Homo sapiens: one gene and its partners. The protein of the gene in region 5 interacts with the protein of the main gene of each other region in a biochemical or structural test. Each region holds a gene or a part of one and is shown on either strand. Other genes may lie near its edges.

Region 1 (3,500 bases), on a different chromosome or scaffold from region 5:
GCCCAGGATGCCATCGAACTTGGCTGCGATGAAGGTGATGCCTGGCTGCTTGGTGGCCTCCCCAAAGACCTGCCTCTCCACTTTGACACCGCCCAGGGCAGAGGCTGACGACGCTGACTGGCAGGGCACCTGCAGGCCAGGGCAGAGTCAGTGGGCAGCAGACAGGCTGAGCCCTACACCACTCCCTGAGCATGAGGCTACAAAACCCAGTTCAATGGATGCCCATCCCACACACGATGGGGCCCAGAGGGCCCAGAAGAAAGGGCTGGAAACCCTGAGCTGAACACCGCTGGGGATGGGGACACGGGGTATGGCGGGGCCCTCTTCGTGGAAGTCATCAGGGCTCGGTTTACACGAGATGGGAACCAGGCAGGAGCACAGACGGGCAGGCCCCTTGCTCCGCTCCCTGCTCCGACCTCTTACTCCCACCACCAATGACAGGCAGGTCCTGCTCCTGCCCTCAGCGCTGGGAACAAGACACAGCCTGGGCCAGGAGCCCGAGAGATGGGGAACCTGCCGACCCCATCCCAAGCTCACAGCCATACTGCCCCCTTCCCCTTCTCTGCCTGTCCCCTCCCCCAGCCCTGGATGAGGCTGCAGAGAGAGAACACGGCCAGAGCAGGATGTGGGAAGGGAACGACAGCTTGAGGCTGACACGGGGCGGAGGGGGCAGAAGAGGGCGGAAGAGGGCAGACGGGGCAATTTCCTGTTCAGGCTGAGCAGGGTCCAGACAGGAGGGCTCTGAGGAGCCCCCAGTACAGACTGGACTCCAGCCCAGCAGGGAACTGTTAGGAGCAGCTTCAGCTGGAGGAAGGGGCCCTCTTCCCGGGTCCCTGGGCCTGCAGGGGGGCTCTGCTGCCCTCCTGGCCCGCTCCAGAGCTGGGGGCTGTGTCACCATCCCGTAACTCCTGAACCCCTTGTGGCCTGGTCCACCCCCAGCAGACAGCTCCGAGGTGAGAACTCACTGAGGCCCAGGCAGGGTGACAAGGGCCAGCTCACCCTCTCCTAGGGCAGGGAGTTGCTCTGCACAGGGCCCTGAGGATGGTGGATGCAGGCGGGGCCCCCAACAGCCACTGCTGCTCCCCCTCCCTTGCCCTCCCAGGCTCCTGCCGGTGACTCTCCGCCAGCAGCCCCCACAGCGGGTTCCTGGTACATCCTCCCAACCCCAAGCCTCCCCAAGCCCTCGGCCTGCTGCAGGGACCCTGTGCAGCCCCAGGTCCAGCCCTCAACACCTGCTGGCACCTCAAACCCAATGTGCCAAAAAGAGCCCGATCGATCTGCCCTGTCCTCCCTCCCACTCATTGTGGCCTGACTCCGGGGACCCCTGCCCCTGTACCCCCTGGGTTTGAGGCTGTCCCTCCAGCCTGCACACAACCAGGCCCATTCCCAGACCCCTCCTCACCCTGCTGACTGCCCCGGCCACCTGAGGGCTGGGGTTGGGCTGGGATCACCGAGCCCTCCCTTTCAACCACATACCCACGGTGGGTGAACCCCACACCCTGGCACCCTCGAGTCCTGGGAAAGGCCCCAGAGGGACTCACCGACACAGTGTCCTGGCTCAGGTACCCGGAGAGGCTGCCCGAGCCATAGTGGATGTCAAACGAGGTACCATTCTTCACGTAGGTGCTGGACTTGTCGCTGTTGTACTTGTGGTGGATCCCTGCCCCGGGCGACAAGGGGGCCCGCCGGTCATCCCGCAGCCCACGCCACGGCCTTAGCCCTCCCATCCCCCTACAATCTACCATGGAGCCCGCACCCCCCAAGCTGCCTCCCCAGGGTGGGATTTGGAGGGGATCTGAGGCCCACCATCATGCCAGAGCCCCGGGACTGTGGGCTGTGACCCCGGGCCTCCCTCCCAGCCACAGCCGGCTCCCTCTGTGGCCACCCCAGCCCCAGCCCTGCTGAGAGCAAGACCACAGCTGGTGGTTCACCCAGAAAGTCAGTGGCTGGAGCAGGGTGGAGGGCTGGCCTGGCTCACGGGGCCAAGAGGCAGGAGAATTGCGTTGCCCAAGTGATTCCTGAGGCAGCCCTGCAGCGACATCCCGGAAGGGCAGGACCTGGGCGACGGGGCCAGGGTTCGTGACTCACAGCAAGCGATGTCCAGCAGTTTGCAGTGGATGGAGGGGACCCACAGGTTGGAGGAGCCCGTGTCGAAGACGACTGTGAAGCACTGGGGGGGCGTCCCGATGCCAATCTCCCCGTAGTACTGGGCCTGGCAGGGGACAGGGTCCGTCAGGGATGGGAGAGGGGGCCCCATCTCCCCACTGGGCCTCAGAAGGCCCGGCTGTCCCCAGAGCCAAGGCCCATACTGGAGGGAGGGGCATCACGGGGCCCACAGCTGCCAACAGCCACCCACTCCCACCTGCTCAGCCTGCAGGGAAGATGGGCCAGGTCCCCAGCCCTCGGTCCTAATGCCCACGGGTACTTGGGGTCTCTAGACCCCTGGCTTCTGTCACCTACCCCTGCTCAATACATGGTGAGGCTGAGGACTTCCCCACGGAAAAGACAAGGCCAGAGGTCAAGCCAGGGTGGGGACAGACGTGGCCCTCAGCCTGAGCCCCGGGTGCAGGAAAGCCCGGCCTGGAAGACTCCCCTGGTGGCCCGCAGTCCAAGGTCTGAGAAAGGAAGTGACTTCCTCCCCAGGTTGGGGCCATGTCAAGGTCTGATTCTGGGTGTCTCAGTGCCTGCCCTGCCCTCCAGGGTGAACCCCAGGCTTGGAGGGCTTCCAGGCAGAGGGGTTCAGCTGGTCAAGGGGAGAAGGTAAGCCTTACAATCACTGCCTGCCCAGCAACCCTGCCTTAATGGCCCAGGGCCTCAGTTTCCCCGTGTGTACACAGGGATAGCAGGCGCAGGTGGGGGTGCTGACTCAGGGATCAGGCAAGTACAAGGGGTCCCATGCCGCCGAGCCTCTCAGGAGGCAGAGAGTAAGAGGGTCCTGGAGTTTGGGGTCGCCTGGGCGCCCGCTTCCCCCAGGATTGGAGCCTGGGCCACCGTCAGCCACCAGATTCCTGGCACCAGCCCAGCCCAATGTTTCTCCAACCGCCTGGCTTCACGGAGCAGCAGCAGCTGCTGACTCATGGCCCCACAGAAGTGACCACTGGCAGGGGGACACTCAGCAAATTTCCATGTGTGTGTGTGCATGTGTGCGCATGCGTGCATCTGCTTGCTCGCGCGCTAGGACAATCAGGAACTGGCCAGTCGGGACCAGGCACACGGCGCCTGGTTCCCCCCAGGGCCCCCCTGGCCCAGTCACATGCCTGTGAGTCTTGGGCTTCCTGTCACAGCCAGGACTCGGGCCAAGCAGGACAGAGGGCAAGGCTCCCCCACAGTGGGCCAGAGCCCCGAGGCTGGACAGTAGGCCCTGGCCTCGAACTGACCCCATAGAGCTGGGACCAGGCTGACCAAGCCCCAGCTTGCTAGGTGGCTTCCAGAGTGCTCCACCTTGGATCCTGCTTCCCCCTGAAGGAGTAGTGGGCACAGGAGGGGCTGTTGCGAGAGGA
Region 2 (3,500 bases), on a different chromosome or scaffold from region 5:
AGCTGCAAAGGTCACGGCGCCCACCCAGAGCTGGTAGATGGGGCGCTGGCGCCGCAGAGGTGGGCCCCACAGCCTTCCACACAGGGGCATCTGACCCACGGCCCGGCCCCTTGCAAAGCCAAGGCCGCAGAGGGGGAAGGTGCAGGAGCTCTGAGATGAAAGAGGTGATGAGTTTGCGGCAATGTAGGAATGAAATACATCGGCCACAGGAGGACGCAGGTGCAAACCACCGAAATAAAGCCATTGCCACACAGGCGGACAGGACGGGGCTCAGGGAGAACCGCTGCTTTTCTCGGGTGCGATCATGGTGGGGTGTCGGGACATGAGGTGAAATGTGCTGGGGCGTGTGAGGGTGCCTCAGTGTGCTTCCCAGCATTCATCCAGGAGAAAACAGACAATGCGTGACACGGCAACAGACGTGTGCACACATGACACAGAAACGCACGTGCACATGCAGAAACACATGCACACATGCGCACACGTGCACACACGACACAGAAACGCGCACACACGACGCAGAAACATGCACACACGACGCAGAAACGCGCACGCGCGCATACACGACGCAGAAACGCACGCGCGCACACGACGCAGAAACGCGCACACGTGCACACAGAAACGCACACACGACGCAGAAACGCGCACACGTGCACACGCAGAAACGCGCACACGTGCACACACGACGCGGAAACGCACACACGTGCACACAGAAACGCGCACACGTGCACACGACGCAGAAAAAGCAAACGGCACGATGCGGTTTCAAGGTGGTGGCCGGAGCCGCCTCCTTGGTGCCCTTTGCCATTTTGCCGCCCGTGGGAATCCTGGGGCAGAAATACAGCAGCACAAAGGCTTTGGGAGGGGCTGGGGGACACCCGAATGGCCAGCTCCATGCATGGGGACACAAGCATCCAACCTCTGAGACTCAGCCGCTGAGCCAGCCCACAGAGGGTCAGGAGCTCTGCCCGCCAGCAGCCACCTGCCCCTCCAGGCTCCAGGCAGCCACTGCCCCCACTCCTGGGGAAGCCCAGTGATCCCAGTCACAGCTCCCTGACTCCGGGGAGCAGCATTCACCCCGAGTCTGCTCTGAGGCCAGACATCCCCTCATAGGCCACCTCCCATGCCGAAACCCTACACACCCACGGGGCTGAGAGGAGCCAGGGCTGCCACTCAGGCCTCGGCACCGAGAAGTCCGGCAATGCCCGGACCCCTGCTCCCTGGGGGCCCAGATGGCACGTTCAGGCTCCCATGTCAGGGCTGCTTCTGAGAAGGGCGGGGTCTTGAAGCACAACCCCCTCCACTCCCCATGGCCCGCTCCCCACAGAACCCACCCAGGGGCTCAGGGCCGCAGACCCCCGTAAGTCAGGTCCCTCGGCCCGTGAGCCCAGCGCACTCACTTGATCTTGCTGAAGACGATGTCCACGTCAGTGACGGTCACGTTCCTGCCGTCGATCACCTGGCAGTCCTTGCACAGCTTCGACCAGTTCTTGCCGTGCATCTCCCTCCCGGTGGCCCTGGCGTCCCCGTGCACGGCAAAGCGCCGGAAGGCCTCCTCCAGGGCACTGAGCTCAGGGGATGCGGCTGCCCCCTCACCAGCACCCTCCGATTCCAGCGACAGCCTCTTGGCTGCCCGGTCCTTCGAGGGGTCCCCCGGGGACTTGGGGGGCGTCCTGTTGGCAGCTTTGGCAGGCTTGGCCTTGTCAGCCATGTTGCTATGGAGGAAGGAGAGGAGAAAGGTGTCACCCGGGCCATGTCCCAGCTGAGCCGGGTGCAGCCCAGGAAACCCCGCCGTACCAATGAGCACCAGGACGTGGCGAGGGCTGAGATGGGCAGGCCCTCCTGGGGCTGGGCGTGAGGCCCCTCAGACCCTTGGAGCCAGCTGCCCCGCAGGCACGCATGTCCAGCCCCGGGCAGAGTGGAGCCAAGCGAGGCCTTGCCCACTGCCATCATTGGGCCAAGGACCCCCTAAGCCAAATAAAGCCAGCAGCACGCAGAGCCCAGGGTGGGAGCTGAGCTGGGTGCCAGGGGCTCCAGGCCTAGGAGGCTCAGTGTGTGACTGGCAGCATCAGAGCCTATTCCGGGTCCCCTCCCCGCCGCAGTTCCACTGTCCCTCCTGTGGACGCCCGCTCTGCAGCTCTGGAGGACACCTCGGGATCACGCACTCCCCAGGGTCTGTGACGTGCTGCCTTCCTCTGGGAGGGTCCACAGCAGTCGTGCGACAGCCGCTCCCTCCCCACTGCAGAGCCTCTGACCTTAGATGGAGCTTTAGGCTGGGGAGGGTGCGTGGTGGCCCTGGGGGCGCCTCAGGATGCTCTTCCCAGGAGCCCTGGGCCTGGCCCCGGCCAGGGGAGGGGACTGCCAGTGTGCAGGGCTGAGGCAGTGGTGGGGGCACCGGTGTCAGGGCGCAGGGACGCCCTCTGGACTTTGCAAGGCGCCCGCCCCCAGAGTAGGCGGCTGGGCCATGGGGTTGAGAAGACTGAGGGGTGCCACCCAGGCAGGGCTTGGGGACGCAGGGCTACGCCACAGGGCAGGGCTGCCGAGGCCACCTCCCTACCATGCATGGGCTTCGGTAAGACCCAGTCAGGCCCTGAAGGACTCAAGGCTGAGGTGCTGGACTCAGGGCATGAAAGCTGCTTCCCAAAGGGGCCTGGACACCAGGTGGGCCGTCAGCACTGCACTGAGAGCTGAACATGGCCTCTGCCCACAGACACAAGAGCCGGTGGGAGGGTCCGTGCCGAGGACACAGGTAGGTGTCCCAACCCTGGGACTCACGAAGCCCTCTCAGATCTGGAGTTCTCAGCGCCAGTCATGGCCAAAGTGTGGCTCTGTAATCGTGGGGTCCTGAGTGTGGCCGCTGCTGACCCTGAGATCCCACAAATTCCCCCAAAACAGCCAGAAAAAAATCCAGGGGCACTCCCTCCACTGAGGACCTTAAGGGCCTCAGGCCCCACCCACTCACCCCTTTCCCTGGAAGGCACCAAAAATGCAGATGCCAACCCAGCGGAGGATGCAGGGGCAGGATCCTGGTGGGGGCTGGGCCGCGTGGGGGCAGGATCCTGGGGGTGGAAGGGCCGCCTGGGGGCAGGATCCTGGGGGTGGAAGGGCCAGGTCAGGTGTCGAGCTGGGAACAGTTTCCAGTTTTATCGCTGACACCATTTCTTTGTCTGAAACAGGAGCTTCTCACAGGCCTGGTCTGTGTTTCCCCTGGGCCTCTGCAGCAGGGGTCGCTGGACAGGAGGAGCAGCTGAGAAATTACCAGAAGCAATGGTGGGTTTTGTGAGCACCCAGAACAGTGGTGGGTGTGCGGGTCAGAGAGAAAGAACCTTCTGGGATGCTTCAAACTCAGGGCTGCGTTCTGTGGTCTCATCTCCTGTGGGGACGCGCCTGAACAGAGACCCTTATTCACACACCTCAGAGAGTCATCTGAGAACCTGCACCCCGTGGGGCCCGCCTGGGAGCAAAGGGATGAGGGAAGCCCCTCAGAGCCACCTTCAGGGCTC
Region 3 (3,500 bases), on a different chromosome or scaffold from region 5:
AGGCAGAGAGCGGGTTTTCCTTCGGATCGGCAATGACTTTTCCATCTCTTCTTTCAAGATCATCTTTCCCAAGTTGGAAGTAACCTGAGGAGGGAGAAAGGAAGATGGAGCCAAGACTTAGACACTTGAATGTTTCTTTTTTCTCTTTTTTTTTTTCTTTCTTTTTTTTTTTTTTTTTTTTTTGAGACAGGGTCTCACTCTGTCACCCAGGCTGGAGTTCAGTGGCACAAACATGGCTCACTGCAACCTTGACCTCCTGGGCTCAAGCAATCCAACCTCCTCAGCCTCCTGAGGAGCTGGGACCACAGGCATGCACCACCACACCCAGCTAGCTAATTGTTTTTTTTTTATATACAGATGGGGTTTCACCATGTTGCCTAGCCTTGTCTCAAAATCCTGGGCTCAAGTGATCCTCCTGCCTCGGCCTCCCTAAGTGTTGGGATTACAGGTGTGAGCCACTGTGCTGGGCCAATACTCATTTCTTATCTCTAAAAGGTCTAGAGTTGGGCCATGCTGCAGGCAGGACTGCGGACATTTCCCAAGTGGCTGGTTTGTGCCCTGGAGCTCACAGAGCCTCTTGTTCGTGGCTGACACATGGCCACAATGGGTTTGGCCACCCTTGAAAGCCAGGAGTCAGCGCTGCTTGGTAGAACTCTACCACGGCGGCCTCCCTGTCCTTGTCCCAGGTCACCCTGCTCAGAGCCTAGGCCCATGTCACTGTCAATGGTCTTTCCATGGTTCTCCCTCCTCCCCTGGAGGCCTGTAGCCCATGCTCTCCTTTTCTCTCCTCCCATGGATCACTCAGGCTGCTAGCTCCCAGCTCTGATGGGACCACCCTTTTCTGTGCTTTTGACCCTTATATCAAGTAGTGTCCCCCAGAAAGCAGCATAAAGTCCAGGTGTCCCTTCAAAAGCAAAATCCTGGGGTCTTGGCAAGAAGCGGCTCCCCAACATGTTCCAAAAAGCATGCTTTTCGGGTAGGAACCCCTTCGACTAGCTACAGAGCCAGAACTTCTGTCCCCAGAAAGACACACAGGGTGGGCTGGGCATAGTGGCTCACGCCTGTAATTCAAGCACTTTGGGAGGCCGAGGTGGGCGGATCGCTTGAGGTCAGGAGTTCGAGACCAGCCTGGCCAACACGGCAAAACCTTATCTCTATTAAAAATACAAAAAAAAAAAAAAATTAGCTGGGCGAGGTGGTGGCGTGCCTGTAATCCCAGCTATGCAAGAGGTTGAGGCAGGAGAATCACTTGAACCTGGGAGCGGAGGTTGCAGTGATCTGAGATCATGCCACTGCATGCCAGCCTGGGCAACAGAGCGAGACTCCTGCACAGGGGTGGAGGGTGGGGGTGGTGAGATGCTACCTTACTGAGTTCCTCTCTCTGACGCTCCCTGAGAGCCTTCATCTCCTCTCCAGAGTCGTCATCTTCCTCCTCCTCCTCTTCCTCTGCTCCCCTCCGAGACGCCTTCCGCTTCCTCCATTCTGTCTCTAGGAGACACAAGCAAAGGTGGGGAGGGAGTCACTCGCCATGGGGTCAGTGTGTGTTTACATGGCACAGCCTCTGTGCACTGCTCTGGGCTGGACCTTGATAAGGCCACTACAAAATTTTTTTAAAAAATAAAGTAGGGTCGGTAGATGACTCATGCCTGTAATCTCAACACATTGGGAGGCTGAGGTGGGAGGATCGCTTGAGCCCAGGAATTTGAGAACAGCCTGGGGTAATATAGTCTCTATAGAAAATTATTTTAAAAAATTAGCCCGGGGTGGTAGGGCATGCCTGTAGTCCCAGCTGCTGGGGACACTGAACTAGGTGGATTGCTTGAGCCCAGTAATTCGAGGCTACAGTGAACTGTGATGGAGTCACTGCACTCCATCCTGGGCAACAGAGTGAGATCCTGTCTTAATAAACAAATAAATATTTAAAAATAAAAATAGGCCGGGCGCGGGGACTCACGCCTGTAATCCCAGCACTTTGGGAGGCCAAGGCAGGCGGATCACGAGGTCAGGAGATCGAGACAATCCTGGCGAACATGGTGAAACCCCATCTCTATTAAAAATACAAAAAAATTAGCTGGGCGTGGTGGCGGGCGCCTGTAGTCCCAGCTACTCAGGAGGCTGAGGCAGGAGAATAGCGTGAGCCCGGGAGGCGGAGCTTGCAGTGAACCAAGATTAGGCCTCTGCACTCCAGCCTGGGTGACAGAGCGAGACTCTGTCTCCAAATAAATAAATAAATATAAATATAAATATAAAAATTAGCCAGGTGTGGTGGTGGGCACCTGTAATCCTAGCTACTTGCGAGGCTGAAACAGGAAAATCGCTTGAACTCAGGTGGTAGAAGTTGCAGTGAGCCGAGATCTCGCCACTGCACTCCAGCCTGGGCAATAGAGCAAGACTTCCTGTCTCAACATTTAAAAAGAGAGTCAGGCATGGTGGCTCACGCCTGTAATCCCAGCAGTTTGGGAGACAGGCGGGTGGATCACTGGAGGTCAGGAGTTTGAGATCAGCCTGGCCAACATAATGAAAACCCATATCTACTAAAAATACAAAAAATTAGCCAGGTGTGGTGGTGCATGCCTGTAATCCCAGCTACTCAGGAGGCTGAGGCAGGAGAAATGCTTGAACTCGGGATGTGGCGGTTGTGGTGAGCTAAGATTGTGCCACTGCACTACAGCCTGGGGCAACAGAGTGAGACTCCATCTCAAATAAATAAATAAATAAATAAATAAATAAAATAAAAATACAATAAAATAAGAGTAACATTTTCTCACCTTGCCATGAAGCTGGGTAGGCAACACACACATACACACACTCATGACTGAAATTCAGTGGGTGCAGCAACATGAATGGAACTGGAGGCCATTGTCTTAAGTCAAACAAGACACAGAAAGACAAAGACTGCATGTTCTCACTCATGAGTGGGAGCTTAATAGTGTGTACGCATGGATGTAGAGAGTGGGATGATGGACCATGGCAACTCAGAAGGGTGTGGGGGGTGGTGATGGGAAATTGCTTAATGGATACAACGTGCAGTATTCAGATAACAATATCATAAAAACCCTGACTTCACCACTGTGCAATCTATGCAGGTAACCAATTACACCTGTACCCCATAAATGGATAAAAATAAAAATTAAAATAAAATTCGCTGGGGACCAAACCATCTATCATTTATCTTTCTCTTTCCCAGTGCTCCCCTCACAGAGCCTGGGATGCAGAAGTTTGATACATGTCTGTTGAGTCAGGAAATAAATGAATGGAAAGCAAATGAATGACCAATAAAAGGGCCACTTACACCAAGCGCTATGGGAACACAGAGAGTGAGTGAGCAAGGAGCCTGGGGGCTCCTGAAGGTAGGAAAAAGCCCACGAGGACACCATAGGGCAGGGGTGGGAGTGGGTTCACGGACTGCAGCAAGAGCCAAGGGGAGGGAGTGCAGGAGTTTCCCAGACCACCCATTCCACTCTCCCCATCTCTCCTACCCACAACAGCCAGAGACGGGG
Region 4 (2,380 bases), on a different chromosome or scaffold from region 5:
GCAGGAACCTCATGCGACCTGTGACCAAGATGTCCCATCCTCAGCACAGGGCCCACTCTGCCAACCAGTCTCAAGCACCAGCCCCTCAACACTGCCATCCACCTGGCTCTGGGCCAAGCCACCAATCCAGAGCTCCCTCAGGTCCTGGGACTAAGGCGGGGACATGACTGATCCCCTCAGAGCAGGCTCAGGCCTGGAGTCGGCCCCCAAAAGTTTCACATAGGGCCAGGCAGCCTCTGTGTTTCTTTCCCTGGTCCTGAACTGTGGAAATGCCATTAAACTCTCTCTATAATGTAACTGAAACTGCTGGCTGGGCGCAGTGGCTCCCACCTGTAATCTCAGCCCTTCCCGAGGCTGAGGTGGAAGGATTGCTCGAGGCCAGGTGTTCGAGACCAGCCTGGGCAACATAGCAAGACCCTGTCTCTATTTATATTGAAAAATAAAAATAACAAAAGAAAATGCTGTGGATGATCAAAACCAGGGTGGGCAGGACCCGGTGCTCACAGGGACACACATGGATGGTCCATTCGCTTTATTGGGTGCGTGTAGTGTTGTCATGACATCTCCTAAGGAACTGGGGGGCACGTTTGACACTCATGAGGTCAGAACAGGTCTGGTGGGCGGGGGGGGGGGGGGTCCCAGGGTGGTGAATACCCACAGCACACCCCCCCACCAAAAGAGAAAACGGGGAGAGGAGCCTGGCAGGCCAGACTCTGATCCCCATGGTCCACACAGGGAAACCCCCAACAGCGGCCTCGGCCCACCGCGGCAGAGCCGAGGGGCTGGCAGGCCTGGCCACCTCCCATTGCCCGATCAGCCTGCTTTAGGGTGTCATCTGGCCCCTCTTCACAACTGACAACTGTGGATGGGGGTGAATTTTAAAAAAAGGCGGGGGGGGGGGGTTCAGGAGGGTGAGCGGTGAGTTCACGGGGCCACGAGACACCACAGCTGAGTGGGGAAAGGGCTATATGTACAGGAGGGGCAGGGCTTGGGGCGGGCAGGGGAGCCTGGGCCCCTGGGGGACATCTTCAATAAATAAATAAATAGCTACAATAATAAATAAGGGTGACGGGCTAAGTCAGGAGCAGGGGTCTTGTGCCCGTGGCTGGTAGGGGCCGGGTCAGGCCCGGGTAGTTGGGGGAAGGTGGGGAAGACAGGGAAGAGGGGAAAGGGAGTGGGATGGCTCTCAGCAGGCGCAGTCCTGGTGCGGTGGCACCTGCTGGTCACTGAGCTGTGGGCCCTGCTTGGCGCCTGTGACCGCAGGGTCCGCCGTGTCCAACGACTCGGACATCTTCTCGCAGATGACATCCACCAGGCGCTCAAAGGTCTGCTTGACGTTAATGTTGTCCTTGGCGCTTGCCTCAAAGAACTCGAACCCTGTGGTCAGAGAAGGCAGGGATGAGGACCCTGGCCACGCCCTATGCCAACTCCCAGAGATGCTTCTCTGAGGAAAGGGAACACCTGGAGATTCCCAGTGCCAAGCAACTTATTGAAGGTACTGACAAATCCCACAGAGAAGAAACTTATTGAAGGTACTGACAAATCCCACAGAGAAGCAACATGGAACTGGGTCAGCTTTGCATTTCCTGCTTTTTTTTTTTTTTTTTTTTTTTGAGACAGGGCCTTGCTCTGCTGCCCAGGATGGAGTATGGTGGCGTGATCATAGCTCACTGCAGTCTCGACCTCCTGGGCTCAAGTGATCCTCCACCCCCACCTCTCAAATTGCTGGGATTATAGGTGTGAGCCAGCGCACCTGGCCTCCTGCCCTTCCTTCCTAAAATTGTGTCTCGTTGTCCTTAGGGACCTGGCAAGACATGCCCTGCAGCGTCCAGCCCAGCCCCGTGCACTGGCCCTGGAAGGCTCTGACACTCAAATCCAGCTGTGACCTCCCCCTGCTCACACACCCTCTGTGACTCCCTATTGCCCTCCAAAGAGTCCCAGCCTCTCAGCACATGGTTGAGGCCCTCTGTGATCGGCCACATTTCCTCCAGCTGACCCTCATGTTCCAGTCTTGTGAAATTATTACCAAAACACACAGGACCTTTCTCACTGCAAGCCTTTGCCCAAGCTATTTCCTCTGCCTGAAAGACCCTTCTTCACTACCCACCACTCCAGGAAGCCTGGCTCCTCTCATGTGCTCCTCCCATCCAGGTCCCTCCCTCTACCTCAGGGGTCCCTCGAGGCACCCCTAGATGCCTCTTGAGCCCAGCAACACCCAACAAAGCGTTGGACGGTGAGTGTCAGAATAAATCCTTAAACTTTCTGCATGGCAAACTCCTACACATCCCTCAGGATCCAACTCAAATGGCTCCTGGATGAAGGCTAGTTTGCAGAAAGTGTGAATTACCTGGCTTTAGCTGTAAGACCTTGGGTGTGTGCC
Region 5 (3,500 bases):
TCTTGTTAGAAAGATTCAGCTTGGACTCCTACCTCAGAAGGCATTTCATAAGCCTCATTGTCAGGATCCACAGGCATATCTTCCAGAATTCCTTCCTGTGGGGCTCCTTCTTCATTCTAATATTTAAAGTAAGAAGCACAAAAAGAACATGATGAAGTAGCATTTTTCACTTTTAAAAATCAGAACCATGTTTTGGAAAAATCTTACATATAGGGATGTTGGCCACGGATCTTGAAAATGGCACACCTTAATATTACTACTGGCATTCTAAACTCCACAATGCCTCCGGGGAAACATTGCGGCAACATGGGTTATCAACCCTCAAAGTATGTAAACTTTTTGCTCAAGTAATTTACTATTTAGGAAATAATCCACAGCTATAGTCCAAAGATATTTTTCACAAGATCAATGACAGCAGGAAACAAAATTTTTAGAATTGTTAACTAAATGTTCAATGAATAATGAAGAGTTAAAAAATTATTGCTGGGTGCAGTGGTTCACTCCTGTGATTTCAGCACTTTGGGAGGCTGAGGCAGGTGGATCATTTGAGTCCAGGAGTTCAAGACCAGCCTGGGCTGTTACAATGAAACCCCATCTCTACTAAAAATACAAATAAATAGCTGGGCATGGTGGCACATGCCTACAGTCCCAGCCACTTGGGAGGCTGAGGCAGGAGGATCACTTGAGCCTGGGAGGTAGAGGCTACAGTGAGCCATGTGCATGCCACTGCATTCTAGCCTGGGTGACAGAGGGAGACCTTGTCTTAAAAAAAATTATCATTCAACTACTCAGTAGATTATGATAAAGACCTGTATTACTATTACCTGAGAATTATGTAACAACTACCTATTTATGGTATAATATTTAGCAGGCTATAAAGTGTTGTCTATATTATAGATACAACCTACACAGAATTCAGACGCAAAGGTAAAAAGTTTGGAAGAAAACACAATAAAATATGAAAGTTATTTTGTTGGATAGTATGTATGTTATTTTGACTTTTTTTCTAAGTGTTTAACTTTTATAACCACTTATAATGTAAAAGCATACATATTTAACACATTAATTTTAAATGACAATGAAGAAACAAATTCTTTTCTGAAATTTGAAGACTGAGACTATACATATTGAAGGAAAATAATCAAATACATGGTCAGAAAATTTTTCTAGGTATCTCTTCCTAGACAAAGAATACTACAAAACTCAGCCTGAAATGGTCATGGCTTTGTTGGTATTCTTCACTAAATACCTTTTGTTGCTTTGCATTTATTTCAGCAAAGTAATTATAAGAAGATAAAGGTAAGTGAAAATTCAAAGAACAGAGAGGCAATGTGAGCCTAAAGGGACTTGGAGAAAGAGATCAAATAATCCCTCAGCCAACGCGGCTGATTTTCAACAACATGTCTGATGTAAAAAAGCTTCCCCATGTCTTCACATGGAAGTGACTGACAGGGACGCAGAAGTATAAGAAAATGGCTAACAGTAAGAAAAGGTCACACTAAAGATCATGCTTATGGTAGGTGGGCAGAGAAGCTTACAGATCATTCTGCCCTTGCCAATGCCCTTTTTATAAACTAAAAAAAATCCAAATAATATATAAATTAAATAAAATATGAACCACCCCAAACTACCTCACTTTAAAATGTGGAGTAAACATACTGTTTTCGTAGTGTTTCACTTCTTGGTAGATACGCCTCTGCTGCAGGATGGCTAGGCACAAGGCCTTCCATGTCACAGGACTTGAGCTCAAGTCCTAGCTTCTCTAGATGACAGAGCTTTTGTGATGCTGAGAAGTTTCCTATGCTTTTTCTGAGTGTCAATTAGTCTTAGTGATCAAACGGGACAGCAAAACCTTCTTTACAACAGGGAGAAGGAAACGACATCATTAACTTTCTCATTAATATTTAGATTACTGTTAGGATATCCAAGTATAAGGGAAATAAGGCAAATTTTTTTCCATGATTTTGAAACTGACAGAGATTTGATTTTCTAATATAATTTGTTAGAAAATTTTGATATGGACCAGACAAGTAAATATGGCAGACCTACCCTGTTTGTTGTTTGATGATCAAAAAGGAGTTGTTATGACGGAACTAAGACTGATGGATATTACTGGATTTGTTTATATGTTATTTGGCTGAACTTTGAAGGATGTACACAGATGTGTAGGTTAGGTGAGTGTGTGTGTCTGCATGGTTCCAGCCTGGGTGAGTGGGTGTGTACAAGAGCACCCTGCAGTAATGGAACAGCGTCCTGTCCGGGGTGGGTTCCCATATTGCTCCCTGAGCTGCCAGGATAGGCTCCAACCACCTGCGGCCTCCACCGAAATAATTAGGTAAGTTATTTGACTTGTTTGTATTAATCTTTCTTAAACGTATATATAGCTCACATTAATTTCAATGTTTAATGTCAGAAGTGATTTATCTTTATTTAGGAGTTTGATGGTGTTTTTGTGTCCAGAAATTTGCCATAGGACTTAATTCTTGCTTATATCAATTAGCCAATGGTAAAACTGGTTTTGTTATATGTTGTTTTGCTTCAAGTCACAGTTTCCAGAAACTATTGATGAAGTTAAGTGAGGATTTACTGTATTATGTGCCCTCTGATGGAAGTACATACACATCACCATCTTAAACTAAGACTGTACTAGTTTAAGTGGGCTATTGTTCACTGATCCAATAACTTCATCAAGTGGGAACAAGCTACACTAGGGATGACAGCACAATCCTATTCTAGAGTCCAAATCGACAATAGGGTTTACGACCTCGATGTTGGATCAGGTCATCCTAATGGTGTAACTGCTATTAAAGGTTCGTTTGTTCGACAATTGAAGTCCTACATGATCGGTGAGGTCAGGAGATCTATAGCATCCTGGCCAACATGGTGAAACCCCATCTCTACTAAAATACAAAAAGTTAGCCGGGCGTGGTGGTTCTCCTATAGTCCCAGCTACTCGGGAGACTGAGCCAGGGGAATCACTTGAACCCGGGAGGTGGAGATTGCAGTGAGCCCAGATCACACCATTGCACTCCAGCCTGGTGACGGAGTGAGACTCCGTCTCAAAATAAATAAATAAATATATAAATAGAAAAAGAAAACAAAAAAAGAAAAGCCCTACGTGATCCGAATTTGAATTTGATTAACATTTAACTATCACTGACAACTTACAGCAAATATAAGGTGGTGAAAAACATGTTCATTGCTTACAACAGTGGCTACAATCAGCAAATTTTGCACTGTGAGAAACTACACAAGACAAAGAATACGTCTAATTTCAATAAGTAAATTGCAACTAAAAAGAAGTTAGTGGGAACCTGCCGCTTAAAGTAGAAGTGAGAGAGCATTAGCCAATTGCAACCTAAGAACTTTATTTCATTCTCATTGGGAACCCTACATAAGCAAATGGAAAACACATATGAGGTAGTTGGGGAAATTTGAACACTGACTTGATATTTAAGAATTATTGTTTATTTCTTTAGGTGTGATGATATATTGCAGTT
Region 6 (3,500 bases), on a different chromosome or scaffold from region 5:
CATTCTTTAAGATTAGTTCATTTACAGCTTTTATGGAAACAATTTTGTCCGACATCTAAATATTGGTAGTTCTCCACTAAGCTGGATGGCTAAGTATCAATACTAATTCCATAACCATTTCTACTTCTGTAAGTAGTCAAACAAATGGAATCCTAGCTCTCTTAATTCCTTTCCAGGGCAAAGTAGAATGTAAAAGACTCCAATTCTTCATCCAAATCTGACAAACCTACTGGTATCTGTTAAATGCCATTTCAGTATGTATTATCAAACTACCAGCACGTCTCTGACCTAGAAGAACTCTGTCAACATAAAAGACATATATATAAATACTTCACAAAATACCATCACATTTGTAGAAAATAAAAAACTTCACAAAAAAGCATCTTCTGTTTATCAAGAATATATACATACATATCCCTGACTATTGCTCACTTAGTCCTATAGAATAGAAACATGCCCCATCCTCCATGACGTTTTTCACATTGCATGCCTATATCAAACATCTCATGTACCCCATAAATATATACACCTACTATGTACCCTCGAAAATTAAAAAGAAACAGTGTTGATGAAAAAATGCCCTAGTGGGGTCCAGAGAACTTCATTTATTAATAGTTTCTTCCCATTCAGTCAGTCCATCCTCCGGATTGACAAGTTTCTCCCTCAACACAAATCTATGTTCCTGGTTAAAATACCATAATCCTCAACACCTTCAGACCAGTTTCCTATACTCAACTGAGTACACGGTGCAATTTCCTATATTACTATATAGTACATCTCTTAAGCACGACATACACATGCTTTTCACTATTAACAATATTCAAAATAGATCATGCCTTCCAACTCTCTATTCACATTCTCTGCTCATGCTGTTCCCCTCCTTTTTGACTTGCTGAATGTACGACTCACCCTTCACACTCAAATCTCTCTAATTCTCCCTGTTCCTCACCTCCAGAATTATTTCTTCAGCTATGTTACCTATTATGTGCTAGACATTATTAGCACAAAGAAAAACAAGACTGTCCTTGCTCCAATGAGAGCTCATCATTCATATTCAAGTTGCGCTGCCGCCAAAACAAAAAACTGTATACACCATTGAAGGAAAACAGTATTACTACATTGTTATACTACGAGTTATACGTCAATGTCCCAACCACAACATGAGCAAGGACTGGGTCTTAGTCACTGTTGTGTATCCGTAAGTCAAAGCACAATAGTGATACACATTAGGTGCTCAAAAATATTTCCTGAATTTAACTGGATTCCTCTCCTCAGTTAATTGTGGTGGTTGGCAGAGTGAAACATAAAACATGATTAAAAACCACCACCACCACCACCACCACCAAAGCTGTGTCTTATACTGAACAATTTCAGAATAAGTTCCTTCCTTGTTGTTACATTTTGTAGTGAATCACCTTACTCTTGTTAACAGCTTCTAGAACGCATCCTTTCCTATTTATATCTTAAAAAAGTTTTATTAAATAAAAACTGATGGGTCTTGCTCCAAACCACCAAAAACACAGACTCAAAACTCATTGGGGATGAATTTGTTAGACCACTATGAGGAATAGGTTGCTCGGAGGCAGAACTGGCTATAGGGAAGCAAGTCATACCATAATTACTGATTTTCACCGTATAGCCCGTTGTAATGGGAGCAACCACAGCAGCTGGTTTTTCATTATCAAGAAGTTCTGCTTTCTTCTGTGATTTCTGTTGCATCTTGTTCTTGATTTCTGTCTCAATCTTGGATTTTTCAGCTGTAAGGGCATCACGTACTCTTTTCCTAGTAGCCTTTTCCAGCAACACCTTTACCTCTTCTAGATCTTTCTGTAGCTGTGTTAAGACAAAAAATAAGTTAGCTATGATAAATAAGGAAATGGCTTGATATTGTGCGTATCACTCATTTCAACTTACTGAAATAAGCACTAAGAATTAAGAAGTTCATCTAAATTTTCTAGGATTGAGTTGCAACTTCAATTCTTCCATCTGGCTTATTAACTGTAATTAACTCAAGCTTCCTTTTTTTCAAAAGGAAAACTTTGAACAATCTTGAACAAACAATAAATAGGTCTTCAAACCTAAATTTTCCAGTTTATGTTTTAAAATATTTACAAGAAACGTCTGCGACCTAAAAAGTAAAACAAAGAACTTTTTTTTGACAAAGGATTCATAGATTTCCTTGTAACATCTAATCCGAGTGTCATTAGATGTTAGACACTTTTAAAATATTTAAGAGATGAGAGAACATGCAGTGACCATGGTAAAATGCTTTTATAGCAAACTTAACTGAGGTAATGAATGCTCCACTTTCTGTCACTGATTGGTCTTCATTATCTTCCCACCTCAAATACCTCACATAAAAAAAGTCTTAATTTTTAAGACAAAAGATAAAAAAAAAAATTTCTGCTTTTGAGGAAAAGTCTTGCTCTGAAGCTGGGTCAGTCTTACACTCAGAAGTGTAGGAGTTGGTTGCACAGAAGGTGACAAAAGACCGAAAATGCAACATACTCTTGGAAATTATCTTTTGAAAAAGCCACCACGTTCTCATTTTCTTCTCTTGCCAATCCATCATCTATTAAAGTCTACTACTTTCTACTTTCTAGAGATAGAGGCAACATTTTATGAAATTCAAGAGTTAAAGACAATGTTAGAAAATTATTGAGCCTAAGTTTTTTTTCCCCCAATTACCCTCTGACATACTGCAAATACACAAGATCTTTCCAAACAGCTGTTTCACTTTTCTTACAATAACTTTACACTCTGGCTTGACACTACCAACTTGACCAAAAAAATCTTGTGTCACAGCTTGATATCAAAAGCTCAATTTAAAAAAGTCTTTTAGTGCTTTATAACTCAGAATATCAGACGCACAACAGAGTTTGAAAGCCTGTTTCTTAATAGTCTTATAAAATGCAATAACAGAACTAATTCTTTTCTTTTACTACAAGTCTTTTGTTATCTCATTTAACTCAGATGCCCTAGTTTTGCCTATCTATAACAGATGACATGGTATAAAAAGTTCAACTCTGGCCAGGTGCAGTGGCTCACACCTGTAATCCCAGTACTTTGGGAGGCCAAAGCGGGTGGATCACTTGAGGTTAGGGGTTCGAGACCAACATGACCAACACGGCGAAAGCCCGTCTCTACTTAAAATTCAAAAATTTGCCGGGTGTGGTGGCACGTGCCTGTAATCCCAGCTACTCGGGAAGCTGAGGCAGAAGAATCGCTTGAACCCGGGAGGCAAAGGTTGCAGTGACCCGAGATCGCGCCATTGCACTCCAGCCCGGGCAACAAGAGCAAAACTCGGTCTCCCAAAAAAAAAAAAAAATCAACTCTGCCCAACCCTCTTGTCCACACTCTCGACCCTTCCAAGAACAGCTCATATTACTATGACAAAAAATCTTGCAAACTCATCTTTTGAGCATAGAACCAAAATGTTTCAGTTCAAAGTAATATTTTTATTGTAATGGTTTCAAAAAAACGCTGATTCTACAACTCCT
Region 7 (2,494 bases), on a different chromosome or scaffold from region 5:
CAAGCTGGTGGTAACTAGATTGAAGATGCTGGTCACCTGCAACCCCTTTCCTCCACCTGTTCATGAGTCAGCATGGCTACCTCTCCTCATGATAAAAGAGCTGGGTTGCTGAGTTCTGGGGATGCAGAGATTTCTCAGTCTTCCTCCTCTCCCTCCCTAACCACTTTCCCCAGCTTCCTCCAAGGTGAATCATCTTCTAAGAACCTGTTCCTCCAGCCCTGCAGGAGTACTCAGCCCCAGGGGCTAGCTCAGTTTACCCTTCTTCCTCTTTCCCTAACAATATACCTGGCATCAGACTGCATCTGAAACATGGGTCAACACATGTGCATGACTGAGCATGTTTCCTCAGGCCTGCAGCTCCGCTGCCAGAGAAGCTTTTTAGCAGCTAAGGCCCAGAGGTAGGCTGGGAAAGTGGGCTGGGTCAGAGGCAAGAAGCTTCCATGGCTAGCTTCCTAAGTATTTTTTTTTGACCCTCAAGACTGTGATATCTATAAGGTTCTCTTGCCTGAATTTATAATCCCCAAACCTCAATTTACTCTCTCCTCATGTATCCCTCAAATGGTTCCCCTCTGTAGTACTTTCCCAGTATTACAGAGCAGAGGTTCACCACCCACGAGCCTTCCTCACTTTTAGTTTTACAATGAACAGTATGGAGTTTTTCTGCTGGCAGTTAAGACTTCAGAATCAGAATCAATCTTACATACATTTAACTCTATTTTACAGATGAGGAAATAGAAATCCAGAGAGGCTAAATGACTTAATCAAGGTTATACAACAGCTCTGCTGGGACTGAGTAGAGTGAGAACCCAGATATCTTGACTCCTAAACCAGTGCTCGTCCCACTATCCCATGATACTTTCAAAAGCAACATGCTGGAAGAGAGAGAGAAGGTGCCCATTTTCTGTGAATAATGTTCATCAATCTTTATATTATTTGAGAGCCAGAGCAAACTGTAAGAGATACTAAGTAATGGAGGCTAAGGGGGCACTGTAGTTTTAGGCAAGCAAGTCAATTTTTCTTTTTAAGGATTCTCTAAACCTGCCATAATGGAAACATGAAGCAATAGCAGCCTAAGGGACAGAACACTTAGAAGCACAGAAAACATGTCTCATTCAATCTACCTTTCCCAACTACGTTAGGTTAGCCTTGGGATGTTAAACCTGCCAAACTATTCCCAAGGCTCAGCCTAATCAATTTTGGGACATTCTCTCCCAAAAGGAGAAATCACATCTCTCCAGTTTCTCACACAAAAAAAGCATTTGCAGCATTATCCAATCCTAGCCTTTCCTATTTCTGGGCCCTACCTGGACTACAGGGAGTGTGTGGAAGTGTCAATCTAACGAAATAAATAAACTTAGAGCCCCTTTTCAACCTACATTACCTTCTCAGCAGCCCCCAGCAGAATCACAGTCATTTCTGGCTAGCAAGCTGAGAAGATCTGACTAGGTGCCCATTTCATCCCTGCCTATAATATATAAACGTCCAGTGGTTGAGGAAGGGGAGGAGAGGGGGGCTCAGGTTACCCCGCAAGCTTGCTGGTGACGAGCGAGGACTTTCTCTGGGGCAGATCCTGTGGGGTGGGGATGTGATCACCAGTCACCAGGTTCTTGTCTGGTCCTGCACTTGGCAGCTGCTTATTCTTCATCTTGGCTTTGGCCATGTTGTAGTCTCCTGAGTCAAAGTACTTTTGCTAAGAGATAAGAGGGAGGTTTAGGTGAGTGAGGACTCTGGCCTTCCTCAAAAACAAGGAGACTCACATCTCACATCCATTATAAACCCTCATGCACACTCGGATCTTTCAAGAAGTCTTCCTTGATTAACCTCATGCATACACAGTTTAACATTAATTACATGTACTTATGTCTTCTCCCCAGTGTGTTCTGACTTTTTCAGGTACATAAGCAATTTCCCAGCTAGAGTATATAGTTTTGGAGTCAAGGGATAGCCCCTGCCATCCTTTGTACTCCACTCAGTAGAGGATCGTTCCACCAAAATCACTTATTCATAAAGGGTAACTGAGGACCTTACTGGGTACAGGGCAATAGCCTGGAACTGGAGAAACAGAAATGAATAAGATATAGAGAAGGATAAATATGGGGCTATCCTAGCCACCAGGAGATCAACCACAAGCCAACAACCTCAAAATGATTATTCTCCCAGACCAGGAATAGAAACTGGGCCTGTTCATGAGGATAATGTATTTTCCTTCTGACTCTCACAGCTCCCACACATGTTCCATGACTGTGACAGCCTGCCCACGCCTGCCTTGCCTCCAGCAAGGTAAATGCAAATCAGCATCACATTATCATCTGTGACTAAGACTCAATAACTGGGATCCTCCACAGGGATGTTTCACCCACCATTTCATCCGCACAGAGAAGCACACTCCAATGTAATGATTTATAATCCTACAGTCATTGCAGAGGAGAGTAAGGAAAATAAAAAAATTTTTTTTTGAGATGGAGCCTCGCTATGTTGCCCAGGCTGGAGTGCA

Evidence for each region.
Region 1: of the proteins of SNCA (region 5) and CTSD, one has a biochemical effect on the other in vitro, tested with the Homo sapiens proteins (one study listed by BioGRID).
Region 2: the proteins of SNCA (region 5) and TPPP form a complex in vitro, tested with the Homo sapiens proteins (one study listed by BioGRID and IntAct).
Region 3: the proteins of SNCA (region 5) and DMTN form a complex in vitro, tested with the Homo sapiens proteins (one study listed by BioGRID).
Region 4: the proteins of SNCA (region 5) and RAB3A form a complex in vitro, tested with the Homo sapiens proteins (one study listed by BioGRID).
Region 6: the proteins of SNCA (region 5) and CACYBP form a complex in vitro, tested with the Homo sapiens proteins (one study listed by BioGRID).
Region 7: the proteins of SNCA (region 5) and ENSA form a complex in vitro, tested with the Homo sapiens proteins (2 studies listed by BioGRID, with this or other methods).

The regions. Positions count from the first base shown.
Region 1 is NC_000011.10:1,757,428-1,760,927, forward strand, and holds part of CTSD (cathepsin D preproprotein), read right to left. Parts: exon of another isoform or gene 2,921-3,500; intron 2,213-2,920; coding exon 2,089-2,212; intron 1,661-2,088; coding exon 1,542-1,660; intron 130-1,541; coding exon 1-129. UniProt on the Homo sapiens protein: Acid protease active in intracellular protein breakdown. Plays a role in APP processing following cleavage and activation by ADAM30 which leads to APP degradation.
Region 2 is NC_000005.10:676,353-679,852, forward strand, and holds part of TPPP (tubulin polymerization-promoting protein), read right to left. Parts: exon of another isoform or gene 3,157-3,500; coding exon of another isoform or gene 2,960-3,156; intron 1,713-2,959; coding exon of another isoform or gene 1,709-1,712; coding exon 1,398-1,708; intron 265-1,397; exon of another isoform or gene 1-264.
Region 3 is NC_000008.11:22,070,314-22,073,813, reverse strand, and holds part of DMTN (dematin), read right to left. Parts: coding exon 3,480-3,500; intron 1,489-3,479; coding exon 1,364-1,488; intron 85-1,363; coding exon 1-84. UniProt on the Homo sapiens protein: Membrane-cytoskeleton-associated protein with F-actin-binding activity that induces F-actin bundles formation and stabilization. Its F-actin-bundling activity is reversibly regulated upon its phosphorylation by the cAMP-dependent protein kinase A (PKA).
Region 4 is NC_000019.10:18,196,284-18,198,663, forward strand, and holds the end of RAB3A (ras-related protein Rab-3A), read right to left. Parts: intron 1,378-2,380; coding exon 1,187-1,377; 3' UTR 501-1,186; downstream 1-500. UniProt on the Homo sapiens protein: The small GTPases Rab are key regulators of intracellular membrane trafficking, from the formation of transport vesicles to their fusion with membranes.
Region 5 is NC_000004.12:89,729,162-89,732,661, forward strand, and holds part of SNCA (alpha-synuclein), read right to left. Parts: intron 117-3,500; coding exon 33-116; intron 1-32. UniProt on the Homo sapiens protein: Neuronal protein that plays several roles in synaptic activity such as regulation of synaptic vesicle trafficking and subsequent neurotransmitter release.
Region 6 is NC_000001.11:175,002,947-175,006,446, reverse strand, and holds part of CACYBP (calcyclin-binding protein), read right to left. Parts: intron 1,834-3,500; coding exon 1,614-1,833; intron 1-1,613. UniProt on the Homo sapiens protein: May be involved in calcium-dependent ubiquitination and subsequent proteasomal degradation of target proteins. Probably serves as a molecular bridge in ubiquitin E3 complexes. Participates in the ubiquitin-mediated degradation of beta-catenin (CTNNB1).
Region 7 is NC_000001.11:150,624,119-150,626,612, forward strand, and holds part of ENSA (alpha-endosulfine), read right to left. Parts: intron 2,409-2,494; coding exon of another isoform or gene 2,361-2,408; intron 1,691-2,360; coding exon 1,524-1,690; coding exon of another isoform or gene 1,520-1,523; exon of another isoform or gene 1-1,519. UniProt on the Homo sapiens protein: Protein phosphatase inhibitor that specifically inhibits protein phosphatase 2A (PP2A) during mitosis.